Linked DNA regions of Homo sapiens. The protein of the gene in region 2 interacts with the protein of the main gene of each other region in a pairwise test. Each region holds a gene or a part of one and is shown on either strand. Other genes may lie near its edges. The genes, in order: NCOA5, KHDRBS3, SGSM2, SERPINB5 and HNRNPR.

What was found.
Region 1: the proteins of KHDRBS3 (region 2) and NCOA5 interact in a two-hybrid assay, tested with the Homo sapiens proteins (one large-scale study listed by BioGRID).
Region 3: the proteins of KHDRBS3 (region 2) and SGSM2 interact in a two-hybrid assay, tested with the Homo sapiens proteins (one large-scale study listed by BioGRID and IntAct).
Region 4: the proteins of KHDRBS3 (region 2) and SERPINB5 interact in a two-hybrid assay, tested with the Homo sapiens proteins (one study listed by BioGRID).
Region 5: the proteins of KHDRBS3 (region 2) and HNRNPR interact in a two-hybrid assay, tested with the Homo sapiens proteins (one large-scale study listed by BioGRID).

What each region holds. Positions count from the first base shown.
Region 1 is NC_000020.11:46,061,644-46,067,314, forward strand, and holds part of NCOA5 (nuclear receptor coactivator 5), read right to left. Parts: intron 5,539-5,671; coding exon 5,412-5,538; intron 3,586-5,411; coding exon 3,386-3,585; intron 2,038-3,385; coding exon 1,717-2,037; coding exon of another isoform or gene 1,694-1,716; intron 1,247-1,693; coding exon 657-1,246; 3' UTR 1-656. UniProt on the Homo sapiens protein: Nuclear receptor coregulator that can have both coactivator and corepressor functions.
Region 2 is NC_000008.11:135,546,608-135,553,042, reverse strand, and holds part of KHDRBS3 (KH domain-containing, RNA-binding, signal transduction-associated protein 3), read right to left. Parts: intron 4,290-6,435; coding exon 4,143-4,289; intron 1-4,142. UniProt on the Homo sapiens protein: RNA-binding protein that plays a role in the regulation of alternative splicing and influences mRNA splice site selection and exon inclusion. Binds preferentially to the 5'-[AU]UAAA-3' motif in vitro.
Region 3 is NC_000017.11:2,374,133-2,380,094, reverse strand, and holds part of SGSM2 (small G protein signaling modulator 2), read right to left. Parts: intron 4,604-5,962; coding exon 4,220-4,603; intron 3,959-4,219; coding exon 3,834-3,958; intron 3,363-3,833; coding exon 3,280-3,362; intron 3,137-3,279; coding exon 3,027-3,136; intron 2,239-3,026; coding exon 2,142-2,238; intron 1,060-2,141; coding exon 892-1,059; intron 684-891; coding exon of another isoform or gene 664-683; coding exon 575-663; 3' UTR 1-574.
Region 4 is NC_000018.10:63,482,273-63,488,707, reverse strand, and holds part of SERPINB5 (serpin B5), read right to left. Parts: intron 4,287-6,435; 5' UTR 4,280-4,286; coding exon 4,112-4,279; intron 1,763-4,111; coding exon 1,625-1,762; intron 1-1,624. UniProt on the Homo sapiens protein: Tumor suppressor. It blocks the growth, invasion, and metastatic properties of mammary tumors.
Region 5 is NC_000001.11:23,312,336-23,318,770, reverse strand, and holds part of HNRNPR (heterogeneous nuclear ribonucleoprotein R), read left to right. Parts: intron 1-73; coding exon of another isoform or gene 74-82; coding exon 83-288; intron 289-5,068; coding exon 5,069-5,218; intron 5,219-6,435. UniProt on the Homo sapiens protein: Component of ribonucleosomes, which are complexes of at least 20 other different heterogeneous nuclear ribonucleoproteins (hnRNP). hnRNP play an important role in processing of precursor mRNA in the nucleus.

The DNA.
Region 1 (5,671 bases), on a different chromosome or scaffold from region 2:
AATGAAATGAAAACAAAAAAGAAAAGAGAAAAAAACAAAAAACAACCTTGGCTCAGAGAGAAAAATTCTTTTTTCTGTGGCTGCCATGGCCATTCCTCAACAATCCAGAGTGGCTGATTTATGAATCCTCAAGCAGACCCCAAACATATGGGGTGAGGGTATGATGACACTGTGCCTGCCAAGGCCAGTTTGCTTTTCTTCAACTCTAGGCAGGAGTTGCAGGCAGGAGCTTGAGCTCTGGTCAATGTGTATGAAGCTGGAAAGCCTTGGTAGGTTCACAATGAACAAAGGTGGTGGCTACTGACATGACAAATGCCATTCCAAACTTGGCTAGCTGGGCCTGGCTCCAAATCCAGTAGAAACAGGGACCGGAGAAACCCCATCAAATACAAGCCCAGACACCTGTACTGCCCCCGGAGATATTTATTTTCTACAAAACAAAAAACAAAAAAAGATACAGCCCCAAATGCAGTATAAACTTTGTAAGGAATAAGCAACACAGCCTTGGGCAGAAGAGAGAGCAGGTGGTAGAAATTGATGACACTCGATGCCGGCCTGGGAGCGCAGAGAACATCCTCCAAACAGCTCTATTTAGAACAAGTAAGTGGGAGGAGGCCAGGGGATGAGGGGACTGGGGAGAGTTGAAAGATTTAGCTTCAGTAATGCCTCTGGTAAGATCCCATGGGGGCCTGTGGCTGCCCCATCTGTGCTGTGGTCTGGCTAACCAGGTGGGAGAGAGCAGGGCCACTCTGGATCAGGGTATCCAGAGCCTTCTGTACACTTGGATTGTCAAAGTTGATACCTGTGGAAGACACAGGCCTCTGGCTAGTCATGTTGCTAGCAGGTGCCAGGCGACTGGAAGGCTGGCCAAAAAGCCCTTGGGAAGGAGCCCCAGGTCTGGGGCCCATGTTCTGAGCAGATCCTCCCTGTCCCAAAATGCTTGGAGGCTGATTGCCAGAAGCCTGTGATCTTTGTTGAGGCTGGCTGTTTGCTGCTGTGGAAAAATTCTGGTTTGGGGTGTTTCCGGCAGCAACCGAGGGGGATGCAGAGCTGCTATTGGCCGTCACTGTGCCACTATTGAAGAGGCTGAGGATTTTGGCCTGAAGCTCTTGCTGGGAGGTGGGGGGTGCAGATGGAGTGGGTGTAGCAGAGGGGAGCACTTGGCCGCTCTGGAGCGGTTGGGAGCTTGGCTGTGTCTTCAGCGAGGCACCCGAGGTCGCCCCGAGTGGTTGGCGGGAAATCGGGCCTGGAAGACAGAAGAGGGAGGTATCTGGTTCAAAGTACCCCCCAAGGGCAGGAGGCCTAGCAGCCAAAGGAAGAACAACAATCACTGAGTCACATCAATCATACAGTACACAGACGATAACATCAATTTCCCAAAGAGGCCGCTTCATGATATGTGCTGTTTACAGAAAACAATAGGCTAGTTCCCCTAGAGAACTGCTAAAAAACAAAAGGGCATCCATCCTGGCTACCACGGAGCCAGCAATACTAGTCAATCCACCACATTAACTATAGGGATCAGCATTCAGTACCCAAATATAAAGTTATTATTAACATTATATCAGCATGGGTGGCCCACGGGAGAACCCAAGGGATGGACTTAGTTCCCTTACCCACTCCAAAGAGCCCTGGGCCTGACACCCTCCCAACAGAGCCTGGGGATTAGAGAAATGCAGAGTCAGAACTTCACCTCGGCCCTGCCACGTAGCTCACCAGGCAGAGAGTCGGTGCTGCTCCTCATCAGCCGCTCCTTCCGCTCTCGCAGGTAGTTGATGATCTTGTCAGTCTCTTCAGCAGTGAGGTACCTGTTGTCTGCCAGCAGGTTGATGAGGCTCTGGATGGCTGGAGGGTGGCCCCCACGCACTCCCTCCTCAGGGCCTCCTCTCTCTCTTTCCTGCAGGATGGCTTCATCGGCCATCTTGGCTGCCTGTCTGGCAATCTCCTCACGTTCCTTCTCCCGGCACTCATTCTTGTAACGCTCATAATTTCTGGCCACCAGCACCATGGCATCTGCTTGGGGCATGTTGCGATGCTCTGTAGGAGGAAATGACATGAGTTATTTTCTTCCATGACATATTTAAGTGCCCACCTGCTGCACTCTGTCAAGTCTTTCCTAACCTCATACCAGCAAGAAAATCATTTTGGTGACAAAAAGCCTTGAGATTGAGAGTGGGGTGGTGTGGGGGGAGAGATGAAGGCCAGGAAGGGAAGTGAACGAACACTTTTGGTGAGGAGATGCACCTTTATATACAGCTGGTTCTTTGGGGGAATTCCTAGATCACAGACTTGTAGTAAAAACCAAAGAAACATGACATCCTCCCACAGATTCAAACAGACCACGTGGGGAACAGCCATGGGAGGCAGGCCCAACAGCCTCTAGACCAGCAGCAGGAGGCCAACAGGCCCCTCTGGAAAGCAGGGCTCTCCACTGTGCTCCTCAGGACAGAGCTGGCCTACCATTTTTTAATTCATCAGTTCAAAAGTCATAGATTAAGATCAAACTGTGACCCTAAATAACCTCCTCTCCTCACCCATGGGCAACATGGTTTACTGGGTAGTGAGAGGACTCCTTAGAACTTTTGTCCTCACACATCTTGAGGACTATTCCTCAGACAAATGACCCACTGGAGATCCTTATGTAATTGTATGGTTATGAGGGTAATGGGTGAGGCAAAGAGAGATCCTGCGTATAGTGGGAAAAGGGTTAAGTCTGTGCTGTAAGAGTGAGGAGCAGGGTATCAGCTGGCGGACTCTTAATCCTCTGGGCTCAATGCATTAAAAGCTACTTCTGAGGAGGACTTCGAGAACTGGGCCTGGGCCTCTACAGGGTCACGGCCTCTTAGCCCCTCTGGTTACTTCTCCAGCACACTTACAAAAAGGACCCTAAATGCCTGTTATATTCTCTGTCCTCCATTAGAAAGCTGGCAGAAGCAAGGATTTTGTCACATTCAGTGGAGTACATGGCAGAGGTGTGCTGGAGCCAGATCTCAGTGGCAAGAGCCAACTGTGTACATTTCTTTCCAACTCTCCCTTCAGTGACTTCAGGTTGGTGGCTTGAACTGAAACATGGTGGGAGTATTTACACCATGGAGATCAGCAAATGCTATAAACGCCCTCCCCCCACACTGGAACTTGTTGTTACACGTGTGCCAGCACACCACTGTATATACCTAGTGGCTAAGTATAGTGTAACAGAGATCCACTAAGAAACTATCAGATAAGTAAGTGACTATGCAAGACTCTTCCATGGTACTTAAGAGAGGGGCCCTACCATATATGAACTGAGATATAAGAGTCATTTGCCCAAAACCTGCTTCTTCTGAGTAAGGCATAAAGGACTAATAATGGACTAGTGACTACCTCCGGTATTCTGACTCTGTACCTTGCGGGGTTCCAAACATGATGTTGACTGTGCAGGAGCGGTGAATCTGGTGTTGCTGGGTGATGACAATAGCAAAAGGAGAACCTCCCCTGCTAACATCCTCCAAGGCTTGTGACAGTGACACTTCTGTGTTAAGGAAGATCAAGTCCACTACCATGCCCAGGTCTCGCACCTTCCGCCCCACAGACTCAGCATAGTCTCTGTAAAAATAAATAAGATCCAGGTGAGCGACCAACTCCAAATCTGCATCGTGTGTCTCAAGCCAGTTGTGTGTGTTCCTACTGATAACTCAAACCTTAGTCTACCCCAGTACCGTATTCAGGATCCAAGTATCTAGACCAATACTCTCTCTCTACCCTGGCTCAGAACGGTTGTGACTTGCTTGAGATCACGTCAGAAGTTGCCAGTAGCACAGTATGATACCCAGGTCCTTCTCTTGATTCTCTAGCCCTGTGGTCCTTCCTTAAGACCATCCTGCTCCCTAAGACTTGTGGCACTTATCTCTTTTTGGGTAGGCTGCACAACACAGTGGGAAGATCATGGGTTTAACGCTAGAAACATGGGTTTGGATCCCAGCCCTTAAAATTTATTTGCAAAGTTGTGAAGCTTAAGCAAGTCCATTTACCTCTTACAAACATCAGTTTCTTTACTAATAAAACAGGAGTAACATGGCTCAGTTCATACGTCATTTTTTTGACCTTCCCTCCAATCTAAATTAGATCTCTGACATTCTCTTCTCATAGGACTCATCACCTGTATGCTTTTGTCACCTGCCCCATTGGGTGTAAGCTCCACCAGTGGAATGAGGCTATACAGCCCCAATACCCGCCATCCACCATACGTATAAAAGATTTGCTGAATGCTCATTTTTTATGATTACTGTGAAGATTAAAAATAATTTATGTAAGGCACCTAGTATGGGGTAGTACATAAAGTAGGTGCTCAGAAAATAACAGCTATTATCATGTGTCCAAAAAAAGCTCTCTAGAGTTAAAAGCAGCATCTATCACTGAACAAGACAGCCAAGAGCCTGTGAACTCTGCCTACTGCTTGGTGTCTCAACACCTATTTCCCTAGTCACTGCCTTGAAATTAGCTCTTTAACCCCAAACTGCTAGAAAATACATGAAGTTATTTACTTAGTACCACCTAGGGAAAGGGAACATAGCTACTGCCAAGCCTGCAAGCTGCTATACTCCTTTCTGCTTCTCTGCTCTGCCTCTTCAAGGAGAAAATGTAAAACAGGGATGCAGTGAAACAATGCTATAAGCCCTAGCTTGGTAACATGGTCATGTAACAGTTCTGCAAGGCCATGGTACTTCACAAAGACTTGGTTCTTGGCTGACAAATGCAGAGGCGTGTCTCCCAAAGTATTGGGCATTTGGGTTGTCCCATGAAGGGAGTATATACTACTCTGCTTGACCAGCGGCTACACCCTCTTCCACTCTCAGTCTGCATGGTTCCACAGGGCTAATCCCACCTCTAGCTCTTGGGATGGGAACATGACTTAGCCCTGGCCAATCAGAACACCCAGCACCCCTGCCAAAGTGACAGGCTCAGGGATGGGAAAGTGAGTCAGGTCAATCTAAAAAGAACTGCAGAACTTCAGGTGGAAACACTGGGAAAGAGAAGTTCTCTTTCCACTTGGCTTGCTAAGCTAAGAAGACACACGTTCAGGGCCAGTGCCATTCTGCCTCTTCAAGCACAAAACCTGCCTGAGAACAAAGGCAAATCTGAGGAAAACAGTGCTTAGAGACTAACACAGAGACCAATTTTGATGACATGGTTTGATCCTGGATGTGGCTGTGCCTCAATTTCCCAGTTAATTTTTGCTTAAATGAAAAATGTCCCTTTTGGCCTCAATTTGAATTGAGTTTTCTGTCACCTATAACTGAAAGAACCCTGGCTAACAGCGCACAGCAATGCAAGAATACACAGCTCAGATTCAGTGGATAGAGGTGCTAAACAGGAGCCTGAATTTCTCTGACTCTTCTCCTTACTGGGGAGAAATATCTAAGGGTTCTTACTTTGTCTGTTTGTTGACCACAATCACAGAACAATCAACGGGCCTTTCGGCATCAAAGCGTCTCTGGATTTCCTCAAAATATTGACGATAAAGCTCTTCTCTACGCCGTTCCTCACGTTTCAAACGCTCTGCAAAACACCACCAGGGTAAACTGAAATAAGGACTGGACCCTCATTTTAAATCCTGAGCTACTTGTAGGCAAAGGTCATAATACTCTGAATCAATCCTCTGGTCTATCTCCTAAAAACAGCCAGTATTAAT
Region 2 (6,435 bases):
AAGAAGAGAGTGAGGCAAAGCTCTCCATACAACCTTTCCTGAAGGTGAGTGCACATATATGCAGCGGAGACAGGAGGCATCCCAGAGCAACAGAAAAGCCAGGGTGGACATGGCGAGAGTCTTCTTGGATCCACTCCCCTATGTACACACACAGCTCCATCATCGGAGGATGGAAACCTCACTTACACAGCTGTCTGAACACGAGCTCCCCTTGGCTGTCCACTAAGCAGTGCTGACACAGACAACATCCCTAGCAGGCCAGGTTTAAAAATAAACGCAAGAAAAAAACACATTAACAGAGATATTATTAGCTGTAACTATGAGGAAGACAGGCTGCAAATTTATTCCAACTAAATTATTAAAGAAATAGAAGACAAAAAAATAAAAAAAATTAAAAAACACCTCAGCAACAAAAACTCCTCTGGGAAGAAAATACATCAGATTACAGGTTTGCTATGTTATCGAAAATACAGACTTTTCAACAAAAAATTAAGAAACATGCAAAGAAACAGGAAAACGTGACCTATACTCAGGGGGAGAAAAGCAGTACAAAGAGGCTGTCTTGGAGAGGGCCCAGATGTTGGAATTGCAACAAAAGAAAATTTAAAAAGCGTATTGCCAACAATGAAAAATTCACTAGAGGAGTTCAATAACAGCTATGAGCTGGCAGAAGTAGTTAACTTGAAGACTAGTCCATTAAAATTATCCAGTCTGAGGTACATGGAGAAAAACGGATGAAAAACCCTGAATGTAAGAAATCCATGAGACACCAGCATGTGTATCAACATACACGTAACTGGAATTAGGGGGTGTGGTGGGGGGTAGAAAGACAGAAAAAGTTTAAATAGCTGAAAACTTTCCACATTTAATGAAAAACATAAACCTACAGATGCACAAAGCTTAGCCAACAAATAGGATAAACATACATCACACCCAAATTGCTGACAACCAGAGGCAGAAAAAATCTTGACAGCAGCAAGAGAAAAACAACAGATTATACACAGGAGAACAGCAAAATGATTAATGACTCTTCTCATCAAAAATAACAGAGGTCAGAAGGTAGCAGAGTAGCATATTCAAAGTGCTGGAGAAACAAAAAACAAAAACGATCAATCAATAATTATATAACCTGTTTTTTAGGATGTAGGTAAAATAAAGACATTCCCAGAAAAACAAAAGACTTTTTGCTAGCAGACCTAGGTTACAGGAAAGTCTAAAGAAAAACCTTCAGGCTGAAAAGAAATAATACCATATGGCAGCTCTATCCACAGGAAGAAATGAAGGGCACCCAAAATAGTATAAGTTAATATAAAAGACTCCAGAAAAATACTGTGCGACAAACCAATATCCTTCATAATTACAGATGTAAAAATCCTTAACAAACTATTAGTAAACCATATCTAGCAACACATAAAGAAGACTACATGCCATGACCAAGTGGGAATTATCCTCGGAATGCAAATGTGGCTTCACATCTGAAATCAACTAATGTAATACACTATTATTCACAAAATAAAGGAGAATAAAACCACACAATCATCTCAGGAGGAAAAAGATTTGCAAAATTCAATACCCATGTTTATACATTTATTCATGATAAAAACTCTCATCCTTTAGAAATATAAGAGAACTTCTTCAACATGACAAAGGGTAGCAATAAAAAAAACCTATAGCCAATGGTGAAAGACTGAATGCTTTCCCCTCCAATTTTAGAAACAACACTGCATTCACGGTTCTAGTCAGTGTCATAAGGAACGGAATGGAGTGGAATGGAATAGAATAGAATAACAACATTACATTAAAAAAATTAAAGGCATCCATATTGGAAAAGAACTAGTTAAGTTGTCTTTATTCACAGATGACATGCTCCTGTATTCCACTAATTAGGATTCCACTTAATCATTGTAGTGATTCTATTAAAAAAACACCACACTGGAACTAATAAACACGTTTGGCAAGATCACAAGATACAAAATCAATATACAAAACTCAATTGCATTTCTATACACTAGTAATCATCTGAAAATGAAATTTTAAAAATTGCACTCACAGTAGTATCAAAAAGTATACAATATTTACAAATCAATTTTGCAAAAGGAAAGGAAAAGGCTGACACCCTGAACACTATAAAACACTGTTGAGAAAAATTTTAAAATATCTTTTTTAAAAGTGAAGAAACATTTCATGTTCCTGGATTGGAAAACTCAAAATTGTTAAGATGAAAATTATCCCCAAACTGATCTATAGATTCAATATAATATCTATCAAATCCTAGCCAGCTTTTTTTTAATAGAAATTAAGAAGCTGATCCTAAAACACATATGAAAATGCTAAGAAGCCAGAAAAGCCAAAAAATGTTTGAAAAAGAACAAAGGTGGACAATTTACACAACCTAGATTTCCAGATTTACTTAAGGCTAAAGTAATTAAGAGCATGCTACTGGCATTAAGAGTAGGCATACAAATCAATGAAAAAGAATTTGAGAATGCAGAAATAAACCTTTACATTTATGTTTAGTCAATTTTCAACAATGGTACTAAGGTACTGAATGAGGAAATGATTGTCTTTTCAACATATGGTGCTAGGACAACTGATATCCATCTAGAAAAAAATAAATTTAGAGACTAACCTCAAATATACAAATTAACTCAAAATGTATTTTAAGTGAAAGAATACTGAAAAATTTTTAAAATAAAACAGTAGAAAATCCTGGTGACCTTCATTAGGCAAAGACTTTTTTGGCCAGTCCAGATTCTGTGTGAGGTAAATTAGAGTCTACCTCTGGGGAAGGATCGTAAGGGTCATGGGATAAATGGTGCTACTGCAGCCATCTTTGGAAAAGAGAATCTGTTTCACCTGGCTAGATCTGCACTGCCTGGTCCACACTGCATGATCACCAAAACTTACTCCTCTCCTTAGCTGTGGTCTCGCCATAGTTTCAATTTTGTAGTCATTTATATGAAAAACTGACTCATATCTGACTCTTTGCCATTAAACTCCATGAGGGATCATGTATTTTATTAGTTCACATCTGCCTACCACATAGTAAGCCCTTAGAAATTTTGTTTTTAAACTAAAAGAAGAAATAGATTGTCATATTTGCTCATGGGAACTAAAGAAAATACTAGCCATTTCAGTTCCCAGGTTATTACATACTTAATGCAATTCTATGTCCTGGCTTTTTAAAGGCAAAAGTGATTTAAATATCCTTTCCCTATAAATATAATAATTGTTTTCCTCACAGATAATATAATCACAGTACATGTGCTGTAGTATGTAAGTCAATCCACCAAACTAACCTGGGATAACCAAAGACAGTCTTATCCAGAGAACTACTTGGCAGATGTGTCAGCTTCTCTAAAATAAATTGTCTGCAGAGCCAAAGTGTTGATGCTTTACGATTCTTTTTATCAAGAGCATGCAAATGACATAATAAGTCCTTTTATCAAGAGCATACAAATCACACAAAAGACTTAAATCAACTTTCGTAACAGAGGTAGAGATGTATTCCCTTTAAATTGTCACATCCTTAGCAATGTGAAGGTGTCTGAAAGGGTTAAAACAGACAGTCAATTTTTAACAAAACATCCAAAATACTTGGCAGAAGCTAGCTAAATAGCCCATCCCCTCTGGGCTCATTATGGTTATGTCTGTTATATTTATCATGTTGTACTGAAATCATCTGTTGATGTTTCTCTTTTCCTCTAAATTACGTATTATATTATACTAAATGAGGGCAGGGACTGCTTTTATTCAAGTCTGCATGCCAACACCAAGCACTGTGCATGGCACACAGAGGCACTAATGGTTTTGTGTTGGAGAACAAAAAAGTTGTACAGTGTCACATAAAATCGTAGGAAAAGCGTTTCAAAACCTGAACTAGTGATTGTGCTATGCAAGTTTTTTAGCCATGTAACCTTGGCCATATTATTAAATCTTCCTGAAATTCTAACACCTCATATATACATAAGGAATAATGCCCAGTAATTTACAAGGACAATGTAAGGTCTACTTGAGGTGATGTCCATACAGCTTTACAGCAGAAAAGGAGCTATGCAAATAACAGTTACAGACAAGAAGTATCAAGGATTAAAGCAAAGACTTTAAAGTACAAGTTAACTATCAAGAAAAATGGTACTAACAGGGATGAGGAACTTTTTGATTTCTTCCAAAGCATGTCCCATCCTGGCATAAGCTTCTGCAGGTGGGGCAAACACTTCAATGAGAACATGGAGATCATCATTGAGATGGAAGTACTTCGCTTCTCCACTTTTCCTCAACTCTTCTTCCTGGAAAAAGGAAAAAAGAAATCACATTTAAAAACGTGTCATTATAAGAAATGAAAGATAAATAAATAAATAAATAAAAACTAACCCCCAAAATAAAAACAATCCATCTGGCAAGCGGTTGTCACAGTAGACACTACTCTAAAAAAGAAGGTTTAAGCTATAAATGTGATCCTGATATTCCCAGGCTTTTACACACACTCAAAGGCTTCCTACTGCTGCTGGAATAATGTCCCACTCCAGACGCTGACTTGTAGGAGCCCCATCATCTGCTCACTTCCGCTGCTAGGGTGTCTTCACCTTCTCCAGTCTCCTTTGCTCAACCCTCCGCAGCCACTGCCCACACTTCTTTTGTGCTTCTCAACCTGGCTGAGCTCACGTGCTCACTTCTACACTGGCTGTGTGCGTCTCTGTGATGCTGGTACAAGGCACTTATCACTATCTGAAATAACTTATTTTTAAAAACATGTCTATTTTCTATCTTCTCTTAGTAAAAAGTGATTACCATGGAGCAGACACTGTGACTGCTTTGCTTAGTGATGCATTTTCCATGTCTAGAGAAGTGCTTGGTATACAGATGTTCAACAAAGATTCGTTGAATGAATGATTAAACATTCATTCATTGCTATGTCAATTTGCTCGTTCGCATATTCATTCAAAAAACATTTCTACATACCAAGCACTATATTCTATCTGAGAATAAAACAGTGAATAAAACAAAATGAAAGACTTTATTACGTTATTTTACATAATTATGACAAAGTTTTTAATCTTTGTTTGTTTCCATAAGGAAATGCAGGACGAAAATTAGGAGGAGAAAAAAACAGATCGTTAAGGAACTACTGATTTTGCTCCACTGCCTTTTCCTAACTAACCTTCAATTTTAGGTCCTGATTTCAGAATCTGGGTCTTCCATTAGTCTCTGTTTCCAATGTTAGTATCAGACAGATTAAGATTAACAGGAATCTGAGGCTAATTTCCAAAAGATAAGAAATCTTTCTAGTCTCTCAAAAAGGCTATCCCATAACCAAGAGAACCCCAGGAATTCCTGGCAATACCACCTTTTAATTTCACAATTAAGCAAGAGGCCAATAATAAAATAAATGCTAGAGGCACATAGCCCTTGACTTCACCCTTGAAGGATTCAACTTCTGTTACTTGACTAATTTGAACTCTTACAAAGAAAAGAAAGACTAATACACAGAGCGGGAAATGGGCATGGGATTTAGTCACCTATAATTTCATCTCAGCTATGCCAGTCACTAGCCATGTGAGTTTAGACAGACTGTATGTAATCCAATACTTAATTTGCAAAATCTGTTTATTGGTAGCACATGTATATTAATGCAGAACTACTGAGAATACAAGGCACAGCTTTATATAAATGCTGGCGAAAGGAGACAGTGTATATACTACCTAGTACACTGCCTAACATATAATAGGCACCAATACATGCTAGCTTCCATCACATTAATAGAAGTAGGCCAGAAACTGAATGAAAGGAAAAAATATAAGGGAATATATGTAAATATAAGCTGCCATAATATTCTATAAATTTCCTTTGAAATTTGTTTTGACTATACAAAACATTATCTTACGCCAACTCTTCATTGTTCTAATCAGAACATTTCAACCATCTGATCTGAATCTCTCTCATTGCTCAAGTTTTAAAAATTGCATTCTATGTACAGCAATTCATCCCTGAAAGCACAAATTATTGAAACAAACACTTATCCTTTTCTAATAGAGTATCAAAATAATGATGTTAATGAAAGATTATAATTGTTCATTATTATTCAAGCATTATTATTTCTATCACAAACTTAAGCTGGACAGAGAGGATTTCTTATCATAGCTGTAGCCAGGGTACAATCCCACAGAGAGGGGAGTTATTACCAAACTACTCTACAGATTAATGATGACAGGCAATGTGTTATTTGGAGAAAAACACAGATGTTGAAATTCTGCATTAAACCCCTAATTCAACATTAACTGTATGACTTGGGCAGATTACATTACCCTCATCTTAAAGGGGTGATTTTTAAGTGGGGAAAATAATAGTACAGTACTTATCTCATAAGGCTGTTATAGTAATAAAGGAGTTAACAAACAAAACGTCTTTAGGATGAAGCCTTGCACATAATAAGCG
Region 3 (5,962 bases), on a different chromosome or scaffold from region 2:
GAATCTCGGGGGAGCGGCCTGAAGGCGGCCCGGGTCTCCCGTGCCCGGGTCTCCCGCACCCGTGACGTGTGCCTAAACCAGAAGCAGTTTTGGTTGCTCCAGCTGGGGCTGGTGCACGCACAATATACTGGGACTGCAAAGGGACCCTCAGAAGGGACACAGCACAGAGCCTCTCGCCCTCTGCCACCCCAGCTGAGTAGGGCCCAGGCCGCTATAGCCCCTGTTAATCCTGTGGGGCCCCAGGTTCACTCGTGGGCAGCAGTCCAGGCTGCGGCTGCAGGTGGCAGTGGGGCTACTCCCAGATGTGTGAGAGGGGAGCAGAGTAGGTGTGTCCCCCAAGGCAGCTGCTCCCTGAGGCTGACCCCTCCCATCCCGGCCCTGATCCGAGGGCATCCTGGCCCCTGACTTGCCCTGCAGGGTCAGCACTGCCGGGAGTCGGATCCAGGCTCACAACCGCTTTGTTAGGAACAGAGGTGGGGTCGGTTGGTGGCTGGGGAGGTCTGGGCGGTGACTCCCCTGCACCTCTCCCTGCCGGAGCCCAGGCTCTGCACGGCTGCTGCCTCCTGGCCCCAGCTCACTTGTTCTCTATGAGCATCTGCACCTTGTGGACGAGGTCCCGGGCAATCCGCAGGATCTCCTGGGCATCGTGATGCTCAGCACGTTCTGGGGGGAAACGTGAAGAGCTGTAGAGAGGCCCAGAGAAAGGGCAGCAGGCTAGGAGGTGGCTGACTACCCTGCTCTGTTTCCATCTGCTCTGCTAGATTCTTGACATCCCGGCCTTTGGGGAAGGGCCCCCAGGATTCCTGAGAACCCTCCAGCTGTGTGCGGGGCAGAGGTGGGGGCCTCCACACCTCTGCTCAGGGCAGCCTGGATGGCTGGACCAGCTCGTACCATTGAAAAACTTGATGATGTCAGTGAAGTCCATGTTGTTGTCACGGATGATCTCTCGGTAGGCCTCCACCAGGGCGAGGGCGATGAACAGGACAAAGTGCTCCGATGAGATGTGCCTGGCTGCCCAGATCACCTCCCACACAGCAAACACATCCTCATACAGCAGTTCTGCGGAGAGTAAGCGGCTGCTGCTCACCCGTCCTAGCCGCATATCTGGGGCTGAGGCTGGGATTGAGGCTGAGGCTGGGATTGAGGCTGGGGCTGAGGCTGAGGCTGAGGCTGGGGCTGGGGCTGATGCTGGCCGGACTGGCTGCTCACAGGCCTCTAAATGGAGCCAGGTGAGGGATCAGAGCTTCAGGGGCCAAAGTCGTGGGATTCTCTCCATGACACAGAGCCTGGCTCAGGAATGGGGGTTCTGTACCCCGTACCAAGGCCCCATCCTTTTCTTGGGTAATTTCTGCACACTGGGTTCCTGCAGACTCTGCCTGCACTTCAGCCGGGCAGCTGTCACAGGCCTCCCATCTTGGTGCTCAGGAATGCTTTGGTTTGAAAAAAGTTCCCCAAACTATGATCTATGAGAGTTGTAACTGTCAACCCTAGTGGCACTTCGGAATCACCTATGGAAATTTTGTTTTCTTTTCAATTTTTTCTTTTCTTTTCTTTTTTTTTTTTTGAGACACAGTCTGGCTCTGTTGCCCAGGCTGGAGTGCAGTGGCACAATCTCAGCTCACCATAACCTTGCCTCCACTACAGGCACCCGCCACCATGCCCGGCTGATTTTTGTATTTTTAGTAGAGACGGAGTTTCACCATGTTGGCCAGGCTGGCCTCAAACCCCTGACCTCAAGTGATTTGCTTGCCTTGGCCTCCCAAAGTGCTGGGATTACAGGCATGAGCCACCGCACCCAGCCTCATTTTTTCTTTCTTTTTTAAAAATTAAAGACAGGGTCTCGCTATGTTGCCCAGGCTAGTCTCAAGATCCTGGGTGCAAGCGATCCTCTCACCTTGACTTCCCAAAGTGCTGGGTTTACAGGCGTGAGCCACTGTGTCTGGTCAGCGAGCATTTAAGAACCCATAGGCCCAGGCAGCCACAGTTCATGAGTCTGGGCTGGGTGGGGCCAGGGTTCTGGCAGGTTTTAAAGCTCCCCAGGTGGTTCCAAGGTCCAGTTAGGATTGAGAACTGTTGGCTTGGGGGAAGAGGGATCTCTCACTGTCCCTGACCTCAGCCCCATGATCCAACCCACTTCTTACCTCTCTTAAAATCCAGCAGGAACCAGCGATAACAGAAGTAGAAGTGGGTGTAGTCTCCATTCTGATGCATCAGCTCAAACAGCTCTGAGTCCAGGATCTTATGTGGGTGGGAAAAGGGAGAGAGGCTGAGCCCTGAGCCGATGCTGCCTCTGGCCGCCACTCACCGTCCGCTCACGCCCAGGGATGCAGGCGATCCCCAACCTGGCAGTGGGTCTGTCTGTTGCCCTGTGCTGCGCGGTGCACTCTCTCCCCCTCGGATCTCCTTGTGGAGGGTGGGTTGCTCCTGCTGCCCCTCCCATCACCCATCTCTCTGAGCTGCATTATTTTTAGGGTTATAGGATTTTCTGGGTGTCTGATGTCATCAGCAACCCCTACTGTTCGCCAGAACTTTCATGGGCACGAGCATTCACACACACACACACTCCTCCTCAATTTCTAACGCTGAAACCATGGTTTTTTTTTTTTTTTTTGAGACAGAGTCTCGCTCTGTCACCCAGGCTGGAGTGCAGTGGTGTGATCTCGGCTCACTGCAACCTCCACCTCCCGGGTTCAAGTGATTCTCCTGCCTCAGCCTCCCGAGTAGCTGGGACTACAGGTGTGTGCCACCACGCCCGGCTAATTTTTGTATTTTTAGTAGAGATGGGGTTTCACGATGTTGGCCAGGCTGGTCTCAAACTCCTGACTTCGTGATCCGCCTGCCTCGGCCTCCTAAATTGCTGGGATGACAGGCCTGAGCCACGTTGCCCTGCTGAAACCATGTCTTTTAAAATGAAAGAAGTTAAGTTTCTATGTCAAGTATGTTTGTGGAATGCTCCCTAGCCATGTGGACGATGGACCAGCCCAGCACTGCCTGCTCCCATGCCCATGGGTGGCAACCGGCCTCACCTGGATGAGGGAGCGCATGTTGGCAAAGTGGGTGTCCATGGCACCCCCGTTGGGGAAGTTCTGGCTCATCCTCTTCATGAGGTGGCTGAAGCAGCTGTAGGCCAGCTGATCTGAGGGGAGACAGGAGTGAAGCTGGCAGGGCAGGAGACGCAGGGGACAGAGCCGGCTCCCATTCCCACCCCTCCAGACCTGGCCACCCTCTCGTCCTTTCTCCAGCTTACGCAGCCCAGTCCCATGTCCCGCCATCCCTCACCATTGTCGAGGGTGACCAGGAGAGGCGCCAGCAGATCGCACATGCCCTGCACATAGCCCACGTCCAGGTGCTCCCACACGTAGCTGAAAGGCAGGGGGAGAGTCACTGTGGCTGTGCCCCATTCTTCCCTCCCTCGGGATCCCTGGGAAGACGTCCTCCAGAGCCACCTGCCGCCCAGAAGTCAGCCTTTCCACGACCCTAAGGCATGTACTGTGCACCCCCCACAGGGAGACAACGGGGAACAACCCACGGGTCCCCCCCAAGGCACTCCGACTTAGGGAGAGCCAAGGCCGTCACGCTTGGTATGTGGGGCGGGGGTGCGGGGATGAGGGAAAGCTTCCTGAAGAGGTGTGGCTGAAGTGGAGGTCTGGTAGGCCCCTAAGAATGAAGAGGCGCGGGGGAGGGGTGTGCAGGAAAAAAGCGTTCCAGGCAGGGGGAGCCAAGTGTGATTCAGGAGCAGGAGAGAGGAGCAGGGCACCTTCCGGACCTCATCTTCACAGAGTAACTGGCGGCAGGGTCCCGCCTCCCACCCTGAGCCCCGCCCCACAAGGCACCTGCACATGACGTCTCTGAGCCTCTCGAGGTTGGGGGGCGTGAAGTACCAGTAGTTGCGGTCACACCTCTGCACATCCTTGTCTATGCGGTGCAGGTTTAAGGCCACAGTGTCCAGTAATTCTATCTGGAAGAGTGGAGGGCCCTCAGGCATGAGACCGGGCAGCCCTTCCCAGGCTGGGGGCAGGAGGTGACGCCCCAAGAAATGCAGCAAAACGGAACCCAGAGACCAGAGCGAGTCCTGTGGGGATGCTGAGAAATGGGCTCAGAACTCCCTTCCAGGGCAGTCAGGGCGCCCCGCCTTCCACCCCACCAGCGCTTCCCCAGCTCTGGGATGTCAGGAGGGCCTCTGGGGCGGCTGGGAACAGCCTGGGGAGCATGTACGCACAGTGTAGGCAGCCGCACACACAGCCGCAAGCTCCTCTCCGGCCTCCAGTTCTCCGGCCTGAGGCTTCTCCTGGCTGGGATCCTGGGGCTCCCTCAAAGTGTGAGCTGCAGGGCCGGGCCCACTGGAGCCTTCCTCCCCACCGCCGTCCTCCTCTTCGAAGCCCACGCTCTGCCCCTCATCTAGGCTTGACTGGATGCCCGAGGCCACGGAGTAATTGCGAGAGGAGGGCAGTCCTGAGTCTGGAGAGTCGAACTCCACGGAATGCTGCTGCTCCACCACGGCGGTGCCCGGAGTCCCGGGTCCTGCTTCCTGCTCAGGTTTTGGTCTGGAATCTTCAGGGTCCTGGGGCTCCGGGGGTTCCAGATCATCCACTGAGATAAACACCTGGGGGGTGAACACAGGGCGGCTCCACCTGCACTCCAGCACCTTCCCGCAGCCCACCGCCTCCTCGGGCCAGAAGGGAGCTGGAATGCAAAACTCTTCACACCCCCTCTCCCACCACAGCCTCCAACACTGTGGCCACGGGGCACCAAGCCAGCTTCTGACCCAGCCAGCCAGGCGGAGAGAAACAAGCCTCTGGCCAAACATGAAGACACGTCTTCAGCCCTGCTTGAAGGAACAGCCCCAGGTCTTCCTGTGGCTACTGAAGGGAAGTAGGGGAGCCAGGGGGCTGAACGCTCAATGGCCAGTTTGAACTCAGTCTCATTCTAGAAACGCCTGAAGTCATGAGACCGGGAGAATGGCCTTAGTGTTTTGGTGTGGCTGGGTGGAGAGAAGCCTAGAGGTTTTAGGAAAAACAAGTTTTGCCTTATTTTCAGTACTGAGTGTTCAGCAGGACAAGACAGGAACGTTCTGTAGCAAGCACCTAGTCAGTTCCATTAGCCCTCAGGCAAGGTGGGGAGATGTAGGAAGGAAAAGCAAACATTCTGCCTCCTAGATACAGTCCACCACCATGGACAAGGCACGAGGAAAAGAAGAGACACATACAGAGACTGTTTGGGATTTTTCTCTCTCTGTTTTCACCACGTAGGGAAAGCAATGCTAAAAGTAGTTTCTACTTTGGGCAGGAAGCATGAAGTGCTGGGTAAGGCCACGGTTCTGTGGCAATCTAATACGCCAGCGAGGAGCTACTGCTGTCCATGAGCTCAGCAGCTGGGCACTGGCACAGACAGATTTTTACAAAACCCAAAGCCAGAGAGAGGGAGAATGTGTTCCTGGATAGGGGATTAAGAACAAAGCACGTGGGAAATGACAATGTGCCTTGTTTGTTCTATTTCTTTTTTTTTATTTTATTTCTGAGGCAGGGTGTCTCACTCTATGGCCCAGGCTAGAGTACAGTGGTGGTATCACGGCTCACTGCAGCCTCAACCTCCATGGCTCAGGTGGTCCCCCCACCTCAGCCTCCCGAGAAGCTGGGACTACAGGCGCACCCCAACACATGCGGCAAAGGTTTGCATTTTTTGTAAAGACAGGGTTTCGCCATGTTACCCAGGCTGGTCTCAAACTCTTGAACTGAAGCAATCCTCCCACCTCTGCCTCCCAAAGTGTTGGAATTACAGGCATGAGCCATCACACCCAGCCAGTTATATTTAACTTACTTCAACTTACATTTTCTGTTAATGTTGGTAAGGATTTAGTAAAGTAACAAGAATACACATTATCTAAAGAGGCAATTTTAAAGAAAAATTAATAAAGCGTCCTTAAAATTGAAACTTATCAGTGTTGGTTGGGCCAGGCAGTCAC
Region 4 (6,435 bases), on a different chromosome or scaffold from region 2:
CCACCTTGACAATCAGAACTACCTGGGTTTAATCAGAACTACCTGGGTTCAATCAGAACTACCTGGGTGTTAAAAGGGCCTGAAGAACTTGCCCTTTTAACACCCAGATAGTTCTTATGCAAGAGATCCTCCACAGAGCACACTTGTTTGGACCTTTAACTAGTAAATTTGCAGATGCTGTGCACCTAGCAGGAGCAATGGAAAGCAGTCTTTTAAAAAATCTTTTGTAATGAGCCGAGATCATGCCGCTGCACCCCAGCCTGGGCAACAGAGAAAGACTCCATCTCCAAGGAAAAAAACAAAACAAAACTTTACAACTCCTAGTCTGGTTAAGATCATTCCAGATGTTGCATGGAAGTTCAGTGAAACTAAATATAACTTGATTCAGTGTCATGTCAGTTCACTTCCAAGCACAGGGCTTCTTGAATTTCTTCAGAGCAGCTTCAGCCTTAGCCAATTAACTTAGCTTCAGTTAATTGCAAATCAACCTTGGGACTCACTGTCACCATTGACTGACAGAACCAATCTCACCTGAAAACATTAGAAAGCCTCAGCCAGATGAAGGAGGGCCTCCATTGTCCTCACTGCCAGCAATAAAAATGTGTTAATTGTCTCTTTAATGATCATTTAGGGAGCTTCTAGAAATGTTGTATGCTCAGGCTTCAACTCACATCTCAGTTTTTTTTTTTAAATTCTTCAGATGATTGTTGGAAGAAAAATGGTTGTGTGTATGTATCTTTAAGCAACAAAAAATATACTCACAATATCTAGTAACCCATGTCCTCAAAAGATCTTAACCACAAAAATACCTACTGCAGAAAGTTGCAAAATCATGGTAAAATATTTAAAAGCTGGTAGTCTAGCTTTTCGATTTGGAAACCTTGAAATTCTGACCATCCAAACAGGAACTAAATCAACTCTGTGTTACTGAAGTACAGAGGGAAACTTCATGTAGTCTAGAATATTGTCTGTGTGTTTCAAATACAGATTTTTAAATATTACAACAATGGGTACCGTAGTGGTGTTTGTATGATTCCTTAGAGCAATGGCTAAACTTATATAACCAGAGCTGCCTGTGGAGATCCCCATCTGACCAGCCCAGCCAACAAAACTAATTTGTGACTGATGAAAATTGTGAATTCATAGTTATTATTTTTCTTACTGATTTTGAGAAACATCAGAAGAATGTGTGCATAAAAAATGAGGTGGAGAGCTTAAAACATTGTCCCAGGCCATATGCCCTGCTCTTTAAGGAGAAAGAAGTTTAAATCATTAGCTGTCTTACACTCTGTAAGACAGCTCATTGTCTATGGAGCTACATTTATTAGAGAGTTAATTACTCTGTTCTCCATTCTCTCAGAGGAAGGTAAAAGAAAGGGTAAGATTTATTTGAGAGAGAAAAGGAAAGCCCATAAGCTTCTCTGTATTTTGAGTTAGAAGATGTGACTGCAATTGATTCCCACTATACTCAACCTCTCCACTAGGATTTATTTATTTAAAGCCTCAAATCACAAGTGAACATCCTAGAAAGGAATTTCACTGAAAAAAAGTTGTAGGTCTAACAGCATGAAAATGCCACTCCTTGTAAAAAGTTAAGTCTTGCTACTTGCTTTAAACAACTTACTGTAGAAAGATTCAGAGATTTGTCTACGTAGAGCCGCTTGATTAGTTTCAGTGAGTAAAAGGAACTAAGTTTGTTTACATCCGATGTTACTGTTTGAAATCCAAAGGGTACATCTTTGACATTTTCAAAATGAAGAACCTGTTAAGAGAAAAATCCGTTACCCAAAAAGCATTGCCTCTGAGTAGTGCTGTACTGAAGTGGACACGTGATAATGACCAACGTCCTTGGGCATACAGACTCCTCCTGCCTAGTTCCCGTAAAGTAAGGCTCCTCAACCTCAGCACTATTGACATTCAGGCTGGATGAGTCTTTGTGGGGCTGTCCTGGGCACTGCAGGATGCTTAGCAGCATCGCTGACCTACTAGATGCCAGTGGCATCCTCCTCCTATTTGTGAGAACCCAGAATGTCTCCAGACATTGCCAGATTATCCCAGAGTGGGAAGGGGAGGACAAATTGTCCCCACTGAGAAACACTACCATAAAGGTACTCTTCCAAATCAACCATCGAGAACATTTGTCCTTTCTTCAAAGTGATGCCCTTAATACTCACACAGAAGGATTTCCAAACTTGGAGAACGATGAAGCTGGGTTATAATTTCTATCCAATTCAAAGACCAGAGAGAGAGATTGATACAAGAGACACCATCATCAGGCAGGAATCAGATTTCAGGACAAGTGCCTCTAGCCAGAGTCTGTCTAGTCCCTCTGGGTGCTTTAGCAAATGCCAGGTAAATAGATGTGTCATTTCTGATGGGCAGCTACAATAAATGGTGGGCTGCCCTGGGCTGGCTAGAGTCAGATGGCCCTGCCTGTGAATCCCAGCCTTCACCACCTCTTCTCCAACTCTTCAGAGAATCTTCTCCAACTCTTCAGAGCCTCCTTTCCTCTCCGTAAAATGGGCTGAAAATACCTGCTTTCCTGAGTTGTTAATGAGGATTACTTATATGTAAAACACGTAAAATATTATATGGATTCAAACTGTTAATTATTCTTGTAATAATATTGTAAGCCATTTAAAACCAGGATACTATCATTTGGAGGGCTTAAATCATTGTATTTTTTTCCTTTTTTTTTTTTATTGTTCCAACCAATAGTCCAGCATCTTTTCTGCCTTGCAACACCACAACATGTAATGTCAGCATAAGATGACACCCTCCTCGCTCCATAACTCATAATGGCCATGCTGTGATTCCACAACCCAGATAACGAACGCTGCCAAACCGGCACATTGTCCCAATGAATTACATAGCCTCAGCATTGCAGGGTCAAATGCTGGTCCCAGACAGTGCATAACTCTCATGCCTAAAGATGGATGAAGGAGACCAGAAAATTTAAGAGCCCAGGTAACTACTGCTGGGGAACCAGTTGCATATACTGAGAAGAGCTTGAGGAATTACTGAGGAACAGACCCACTACCCGGAAGTTCTCTTTCGCTGGCCTTTCTCTAATGGTAGATGAGAAATGAGGAATGGGAGATTGGGTAGGGATAGTGGAGTTGCGCAGTTCAGAGATGTGGCTTGATGTCAAGATACATCTCCTCTTCACAGGAGTGAAGCTGCTTCAAGTCCCAAGTGTAAATTCTTCATCCTTACCTAAATAACTCTTATGGGCCATACTTTCTGGACACATATGAATACAAGAAGGTGTTGCCTTTTTAAATGCTTATGAGCTAATAGAAAAGAAATTCTATTGAACCTAGAATGATTAGCATAAGAGTAATAATGAAATAGAATTAGAAGAACATTCACCTATTATGTAAAAGTACATGAGGACTTAAAACGGAACAATCAGGAAAATTGTCTCATTTGAAGGTCTAAGAACTTTACAAAGCTAGATAATCAACCATAGCCAGAAAGAAACCCTAAAACGATACAGATGCTGCTTGATTTATGATGAGGTTACATCTCAATAAAACCATTGTAAATTGAAAATATTATAAGTCAGAATGAAAAAGCTGTGATTACCCAGCAGATCTCCAGGTTCTCCATCACAGCCTGGTGCCTGTCCCAGATGTGAGTTGCATTACCTACAAGCGAGCTTTCACATTTAAAAATAAATTAAGATGCCTGTAATCCCAGCATTTTGGGAGGCCGAGGCAGGCGGATCACCTGAAGTCAGGAGTTCGAGACCAGCCTGGCCACATGGTGAAACCCTGTCTCTACTAAAAATACAAAAATTTGCCTGGCGTTGTGGCACGCGCCTGTCATCCCAGCTACTCGGCAGGCTGAGGCACAACAATCGCTTGAACCTGGAGGCTGCAGTGAGCCAACATCGCACCACTGCACTCCAGCATGGGTGACAGAGTGGGACCCTGTCTCACAAAAAAAAAAAAAAAAAAAAAAGATTAAGAGAGTCCTGGAATGGCACAGTTCTGAATCTTGACCAATTCTGGCCACAAAGTCTACATTCCTTTTTTCCGTAGGCACTGCCTATGGGTTCTAATAACTGTATTCCCACTTAAAGTAGAAACAAGGTTTTGGGGCTTACCTGTCCAATTTCATTTGCAGTGTCACCTTTAGCACCCACTTGAGCAAGTGACAGAGAGGTGGAGAGACAGATTGGAGAGAAGAGGACATTGCCCAGTGGCTCCTTTTCACATAGTTGTTTGAACAGATCAACGGCAAAAGCCGAATTTGCTAGTTGCAGGGCATCCATTGCGGGCCTGGAAGCAAGGACAAGGGAGCAGTTAGTTTCTAAAGCATCTTTAACGTCTTCTCAACTGCATTCTGCCAACACTATAAGAATTCTATTTAAACAAAGTAATTGATCTCAGAAGAAACAAGGAACTTTCTGTAAATTCAAAAGTAAGATCAGTTGTGAAGAAACTTCCAGGCAAATGTCTGAAGGCATGTGAGGTCCTCTGTGTGTCCAGCTCTGCCTAGACTCTGCAGTCTTGGGCCTGCTCAGCCACAGTGGCCATTGTCGGGAGCCCAGTGGTCACATCTCTTCTCCAGCATATGTCAGAAAAGTTGACAGCACTAATCAACATCAGTTGGTTTTATTTATCACATATTGTTTCCATTAGGATTTCAGTTAAACTACAAAGTTAAAACTTTTATAAAACAAAAACAGTCGAATTGCAGCAGTTTTGCATTGTTCAGTTTAATATTTAGTAAGTGTAATGGGTTGAATTGTGTCCCCCAAAAAGATATGTTAAGTCCTAATCCCCATTACCTGTGAATGTGACCTTACGTGGAAACAGGGTATGTCCTATTTCTTAACTAATATATAATTAGTTAAGATGAAGTTACATTGGAGTTAGGTGAGCCCTAATCCGATATGACTGGTGTCCTTAAAGGAATAAGAGGAGAGACACAGAAACAGACATACACAGAGGGAAGATGTGAAGACACAAATGTCTTCACCTGTGTGAAGGGCATGCCGTATGGCAATGGAGGCAGAGATTGGAGGGATGCTTCCACAAGCCAAAGAATGCTAAGAACTGCTGGCAACACCAGAAACCAAGAGAAAGTCATGGAACATTCTCCCCTGGAGCCTTTTGAGACAGCATGACCCTGCCGACATCGTCATTTCAAAGTACTGGCCTCCAAGCCTGTGGGTGAATAAAGCTTCTGTTGCTTTAAGCTGCCTGGTTTGTGGTGCTTTGTGAGAAGTGCTAGAAAACCCTTAAAGTAACTAATGCCTTTGCAGGACACCCAGCACATAACAATACTTAATAAACAGCAGCGGTTATTGTTTGCGTTTATAATACGCATCTGTGTGTAAGACACTACCCAGAGTGTTACAAGGATCAGTGGACCTCCTCCTTCTCTAAGCTCATAGTCTCTTTGGGCAGATATGCAGACAAATAACTAGAATACAGAGCTGCCCAAGACATGTGAGTGGTATAATAAGTAATATGGGAGTTAAAGAAAAGAGGGAACAGTTTCAAAATATGTAGCCTGGTAAAGTGGATATAGCAGCAACTAGGCATCTTGTCACATCTCAGAGCTCTTTAATTTTAACACAGCAACTTCCAAAGTGTTGTGTCTTGACTCCTGGCAGTCCCTAACACCCTTTCAGGAGGTCCATGAGGTTAAAACTATTCTCATGATAATACTAAGACATTATCATTCTCAATCTCTAATAGACAGCGGAGTTTTCCAGAGGCTATATGACATCCCTTCTATTAAGCCAAATATTAAGGAGATTTGCAAAAATGAAAAACAATATCACTCTTCTCATTACATTTTTTCACTTTAGAAAATGTTTTTTAATATATATATTATTCATATTAGTATTTAATTATTATATTATTTTAATAAATTAGTAAATGAACATTTCAAAATGTGTCTGGTTTTCATTTCTAGTTTGGTAAATAGTGATAGATATAATCTACATTTTTTTTAAAGAAACAGTTCTTTGGGGTCCTCGGTAATTTTTAAGAGTGTAACAGGGTCCTCAGATTTAAAAAGCTTCACTGTTCTAATAAAGGTCTACCTACCTATTTAGTCTGGTAGTTACTGATCGACTCCAAAGACAATTAGGTAAATTCAGGCAGTCAGGGCTTCCCTTTCTGGGAGCAGAGCTGAACTACATGAACTCCTGAGGTTCTGCCTAAGCCAGGACAGCATGTTTCTAAGGGAAATGAATTGATATTACTACCCCGGGGTGAGCAGTACAGGGATTAAACTCGAAGTGTTCCCCCAAAGCCTCAGGCGCACACACACAGACACAAGGGCCGAATGTGACATTGAAGGTCTTCAGGTAGGACATGCACCCTGGCATTAGAAAGTAAGCTCCACTGCTTAAGATAGAGGACTCCCTTTGGCCAGTACCCAAACGTGTGTCAAGAGTCAAAGGCATGATGA
Region 5 (6,435 bases), on a different chromosome or scaffold from region 2:
CGTCAAGTGGATTTAGGTCTGCCTAATCGCTAGATGTGTGGTGGATGCTTTTGGCTTATATATCTGGCTGTTGGTTTAACAGAGGGTTTGGTGGACGTTATTCTCTATCATCAACCCGATGACAAAAAGAAGAATCGGGGGTTCTGCTTCCTTGAATATGAGGATCACAAGTCAGCAGCACAAGCCAGACGCCGGCTGATGAGTGGAAAAGTAAAAGTGTGGGGAAATGTAGTTACAGTTGAATGGGCTGACCCTGTGGAAGAACCAGATCCAGAAGTCATGGCTAAGGTAAATACAGTTGCTTGGAATGGGCATAGGGTCATCATTTAAATTTTGTACTCAGAATAAAGCTCAAATATTTTGAGTTTTATGATAAATAGAAATTGTAGCTTTAGACTTCAACTGTTTGGCAAGGAGCGGCTTTAACACTAAAGTTAACAGCCTGTCTTGGTATCCAGGAATTTCCATTAACAATCCCTTTTCCTGCAGATTAAATGTGCAAAAGGAACTGAAATGAAATTCCTTCAATTAAGTAGTCCCATACACACTGGGTGTTTGTTTAGTGCTAGGCACTGTGAGGGATAGAGGTTTTTTTTTTTTTTAAAAGTCCTGAGTAAAGAGAGAAGTAATGTTTTGGAGATTATAAGTTATAATCTTCATTGACTATATTATGACTTTATTACTTGGCCATGAATTATGTTTTATTTAGATTTATAGCTAATTTTTCTTTTTTTAAGCTTTTTTTGTAGTTTTTATTTTTAAAAATATTTTATTTATTATTATTATTTTTTGAGACAGAGTCTTGCTGTGTTGCCCAGGCTGGAGTGCAGTGGTACGATCTCGGCTCACTGCAACCTCCACCTCCCAGGTTCAAGCGATTCTCCTTCCTCAGCCTCCCAAGTAGCTGGGACTACAGGCGCCTGCCACCATGCCCGGCTAAATTTTGTATTTTTAGTAGAGACAGCATTTCACCATATTGCAGGCTGGTCTCGAACTCCTAAGCTCATGATCTACCCGCCTTGGCCTCCCAAAGTGCTGGGATTAAGGCATGAGCCACCGTGCCCCGCCTCTTGTTTTTAAATGATCAGATTCCCTTAGTGTATTGTCCCCATGAAGAAAGGCAAAAGATTGTCATGTTTGCTCTTATTTGTTAGTGGCAAAATATGCATGGCAAGTCCTGTAAAGGGCCCTCAATTCCCTCCTGATTCCTGTACTTGCGTTGCCAGGATCTTAATAGTGGTGCCTTGAGTACTGGTTCTTAAGTTTTCCTTTGGGCGACTCCTGGGACACATCAGAGTTGCATTTCTTTTTTTTTGAGATGGAGTCTTGCTTTGTCCCAGGCTGGAGTGCAGTGGCGCGATCTCCACTCACGGCAAGCTCTGCCTCCTGGGTTCACGCCATTCTCCTGCCTCAGCCTCCCAAGTAGCTGGGACTACAGGTGCCCGCCACCACAGCTGGCTAATTTTTTGTATTTTTAGTAGAGACGGGGTTTCACCATGTTAGCCAGGGTGGTGTCCATCTCCTGACCCTGTGAACCGCCCGCCTCGGCCTCCCAAAGTGCTGGGGTTACAGGTGTGAGCCACTGCGCCCGGCCTCAGAGTTGCATTTCTGCTGCTTGCAATGAGCTCTTGAGCATTTTAGTTGTCTCTTCCCTTCACAGGGAGGCAGCAACTCTGAATGGCCATGAGTTAATGGTTGGATTCTTCTTGATAAGTCAGAAGTCAAGGTTTTTATTCCAGAATTTGAGGAGGCAAACCCTCGTTCTAAGTAGTTTGGAGGAGAACTCTGGTTTATACTTGTATAAAGTCTGGGTTGGCAGTGACATCTTTGGGTTAATCAGATAAGTTCTATTCAGAATGAACCAGAGAGGCTCTCAGAAGTGCTACTCAGTATCTTTTATCTCATATTCCTTGAGTAGATGGGTGTCTAGGAAAGGGATAGAGAATTTAAATAGCTCTGAGTTTTTATTTTGATTTTTTACTAGCTTGATTTTAATTCCTATTGTTTCTTCTCCTAATACAACTATGACTTTGGGTAAACTACTGAACATGAATGTCATCTATTTTATTGAGCCTGGATCAATCTCTAAGATCCACCACAACTTTGAATCTACCTGTAGTAACTAAGTATAGCCTGTATTACTTTTTCTGTAAAAATATTTTAAAATAGTATTATAGATGTATTATAATAGAGGAATAAAATATTATAAAAGAGGAATAAAATCCCATGAAAACCAAAAGTATAGCTTGTAATTTGCTTACCAGCCACTTCTCACATAACCTTTAGTAACTGCTCAGATGGAAGTTCATCCTAATCTTTTTTTAGGGTTAGAAAACTTCAAGATTTCATTCTGGTAACTCCTTTTTCCTAGATCTAAAACAGGTTTCAGAATGAAAAGGAGGTCTCTATAAACTTAGGATTAAATATTATGGAGCCCTTTATTGTTTCTTTTTTTTAAAAGATGGGGTCTCATGTTGCCCAGGCTGGAGTGCAGTAGCTGCCCACATGTGCAGTCATAGCACACTGCAGCCTTGAACTCCTGGGCTTAAGCGTCCCTCCTGCTTCAGCCTCCCGGGTGCTTGCAACCCCATCCAGCTCCTTTATTGTTTCCTAATTGAAAAGAAAAGTTTATCCATTTGAGTAAAGCTTCTGTTATTCACACTATCAATTTACAATTCACTGAAGATTTTTTTTGCCAAGTTGGGTCAGTTTTACAATGTACCATAACCTAAAAGCCTAAATATATGTCTCTTAAAGGGACCCTTTTTCCTGTTGAACATTTTAAACACAATTTCAGTAAGTAATTTTCACATAGTATGTTATCGTTTCATCATAGAAAAGTCCATGTTGAATTTTTTTTAAAAAGCAACTAAACCAGTGGGAGTCTGTGTAACATAGAGGCTGGACCTTAGTATGACAAATTGAGAATAATAAAGGGGATGGAGCGTTTGTGGAAAATGTTAGTTTTTTTCCTCCTTAAATTAGTATCTTCTTATTAGATAGCCCTTTATCTGAAGCAACAATTTGTTCAATATGTTAGTTTTTTATTTGGATAGGTACTATGTTTTCTTAGTTCAAAAGTTATATAGAAAAGTATAGACAAAGAAATTTCCTTTCTACCCCTATCCCTGTGTCTACCAAATCCCCTTTGTCTCCTATAAGGCATCCAGTTTTAATAGTTGCTGGTTTCCTTTTAGTATTTCCTTCGGCAAATATGGATATACTTCCTTAATTCTTAGATGAGTGGTAGTAATGTTGGTAGCCTACCATATCCACTGATCTACCTTTTGTTTATTCACCATCCTGTTTCATCAGCTCTGAGGAAATACATCATTACTATATGTACTACTAAATAGTTAAAAAACACTGCCAACTAAACTATGGCACAGTACTTGCTTATCACATTGACTGTAAGTTGTCCTATCCTACAACTCATAGAGCTCCTCTTCATTTTTTGGGTTTTTGTTTTTTTTTTTTTTTTTTTTTTTTTTGAGACGGAGCCTTGCTCTGTCACCCAGGCTGGAGTGCAGTGGTGTAATCTTGGCTCACTGCAGCCTCTGCCTCCCGGGTTCAAGTGATTCTCCTGCCTCAGCTTCCCGAGTAGCTGGGGTTATAGGTGCCTCCTACCACGCCCGGCTAATTTTTGTATTTTTAGTAGAGACAGGGTTTCACCATGCTGGCCAGGCTGGTCTTGAACTCCCAACCTCAGGTGATCTGCCCACCTCGGCCTCCCAAAGTGCTGGGATTACAGGCGTGAGCCACCGCGCCCAGCCCTCTTCTTCATTTTTTATGACTACATAGTAGTCTATTCTGTGGAGGTACTATAGTGTATTTAACCAGCTGGATATTGTTTCTAATCTTTTGCTCTTACAGTGCTGGAAGGAATAAGCTTATGTTAGTTGATACAAGTGGAGATATATCTGTAGGATAGATTCTTAGGGGTAGAATTGTGGGCCAAAGGGTAGATATATCTGTAATTGTTAAGATACTGCCATATTCCTTTCTGTAGGAGATACACTATTTTACATTCCTACCAGCAAAATACAAGAGAATTATTTTCCTCATTCTTGACAAAATAGTGTATAATCAAACTTTTGAATTTTGCCAGCCTGATAACAAATGTCTCAGTGCCATTAATGATTAATGATTTGCTTCTCTTACTATGAATGGTTTGAACTTTAAATATATTTTAAGAGCCATATGTGTTTCTGTGTATGAACCATGTATTCAGGAATTTTGCCTATTTTTCTATTCAGTTGTTGAGCTTTTTGTTATTTTCTGGTGCTCTGATATAAAAGAGAGATTAGCTGTTTGTGATACATGTTGCAAATTTTTCATCCATATTTATTGTCTTTGCTTATAGTATTTTTTTGCCATATAGAAGTCATTTATTTTTAGTAGTTGAGTATAACATTCTTATGGCTCCTAGATTTTAAGTCATAAGGTCATCCCCACTCCAGTGTTATATAAAGGAATCATTCTTGTTCTAAAATTTCACAGTCCTCCCTCCACCCTTTTATTATTTAAATTTTCAATCTATTTGGAGTTTATCCTTGTGTATAGTGTAAGGCATGGACCAGCTTTTCTCCTTTTTTTCTAATTTAACACTACCTGATTTAATGATTTAAGCATTATAGTTTGTTTATATTTGGTAGGGCCAGCCTCTAAATTTCACTCTTTTTTTTCCTGGTTATTCTTGCTTATTTATTTTTTCATATGAACTTTTGAAAGTTACTCAGTTTTAGAGGAAAGAAACAGAAAAACTTGTTTTGAAAGGGACTTTTTGTTGATTAACTTGGTAATAATAATTATGTGTTGGTTCCTTGAAGGTTCTACTCAGTGTTAGGTGCTTTAATGACAACATAGGAGAAGGCAGGAACCAATAATTTTTGTAAATTGGTGACTGATATCAGTGTCATTTTCCTAGCAATTTCTCTTACTACCTGTAACAACACTTTTAGCACTTAATGTTTTAGAGGAGAAAAGCTATGCTATGAAGACAGGAAGAAACACTTTTCAGGTAAAATTAAGTAGCCAATGACGGTTTTGTTTATTTGTTGCTTACTAGGTAAAAGTTTTGTTTGTGAGAAACTTGGCTACTACGGTGACAGAAGAAATATTGGAAAAGTCATTTTCTGAATTTGGAAAACTCGAAAGAGTAAAGAAGTTGAAAGATTATGCATTTGTTCATTTTGAAGACAGAGGAGCAGCTGTTAAGGTAGGAATTTTGAAATTTTGGTTCTTGATATTTGAATTTTGTTTTTGAAACTTGCCAAACACAAAGTAACTTTAAAAACTGAAACAATATTGGTTGTCAGCTTTTGCTGAACTCTTTCTATTTAATCTCTGTAAAGTGGTAATAGTATGTAACAGATAAGACTCCATATTTCAAAGCCAGGTTATTACTGAGTTTGTGATCTTAGGCAAGTTATTTTTAATCTCTGTATTGTTTTGTAAGATTCGATAGCATGATGCCTTGGAAGTATTACAAGGTATAAAAATTAGCTGCTGTAAACACTGAATAGGTAATGAATGCATTATAACTACTTAGTTGACCTCAGTTTGTGTACCTATGAAGGAAACTGAGTGGTGTACATGACTCATACAGTATACCATGTTTAATTGAGTAGATAGATTTTGAGGGTATGATTAGTTTTACCTTTATTTAATCATTTTAGAGTTAAAATAGCATTCACTATGTTTTACTGATTTCGGTAATTGTTAGAGATATCACTTGTGTATAATAGTTGATTTAGTCTTTGATGATAATGAAAAGTTTGAAGAAAGTATTTTCATATGGTATCTGGAACACAAAACCTGCTTTCTATCGACAATGGTTTAGGACTATCTTTAATGGGTGAAATTTTCAGTTTCTTTTTTTTATTCATCTCTCCTTCCTTGGGGGGGTGGGAGCAAGACAAAACACTACTAAAATCTTATTTATGTTATTAGGAAGATAGATCCAGAATGCTTAGTGACACAGGCATGGTTCTTTTTCTGCATGTTTGGTCGGTGGGATACTGCCATCTCTAATCTGAGCATTTTTTGGTTTTGTTTTTTGCCCAGGCTACTGCTTTTAAAACAGGCTTTATAGAATCCCTGATTGGTTTATAATTAATTGGCTTGCTCATTGATGGTAGCTAATTAATGAGGCAGTATTGTTCATAAAATTCATAACTTGTCCAAGATCACAAACTCAGTAATAATCTGGCTTTGAAGTATGGAGTCTTATCTGTTATGCTGTTATACTCTTATCCGTTCATTTGTGGCTTCTGAAATTTCACTGGTATAGAATGCAGATAACTAATAATTTTATGCTGTCTAAATATTCCTCCTGACTCGACTGGTTTCAAATAACTGGTTGTCCTGATTGAAAATATTTATAGGATGGTTTGCCAAAGAAGCCTATGAAATTATAAAATATCTAGTCCAGGA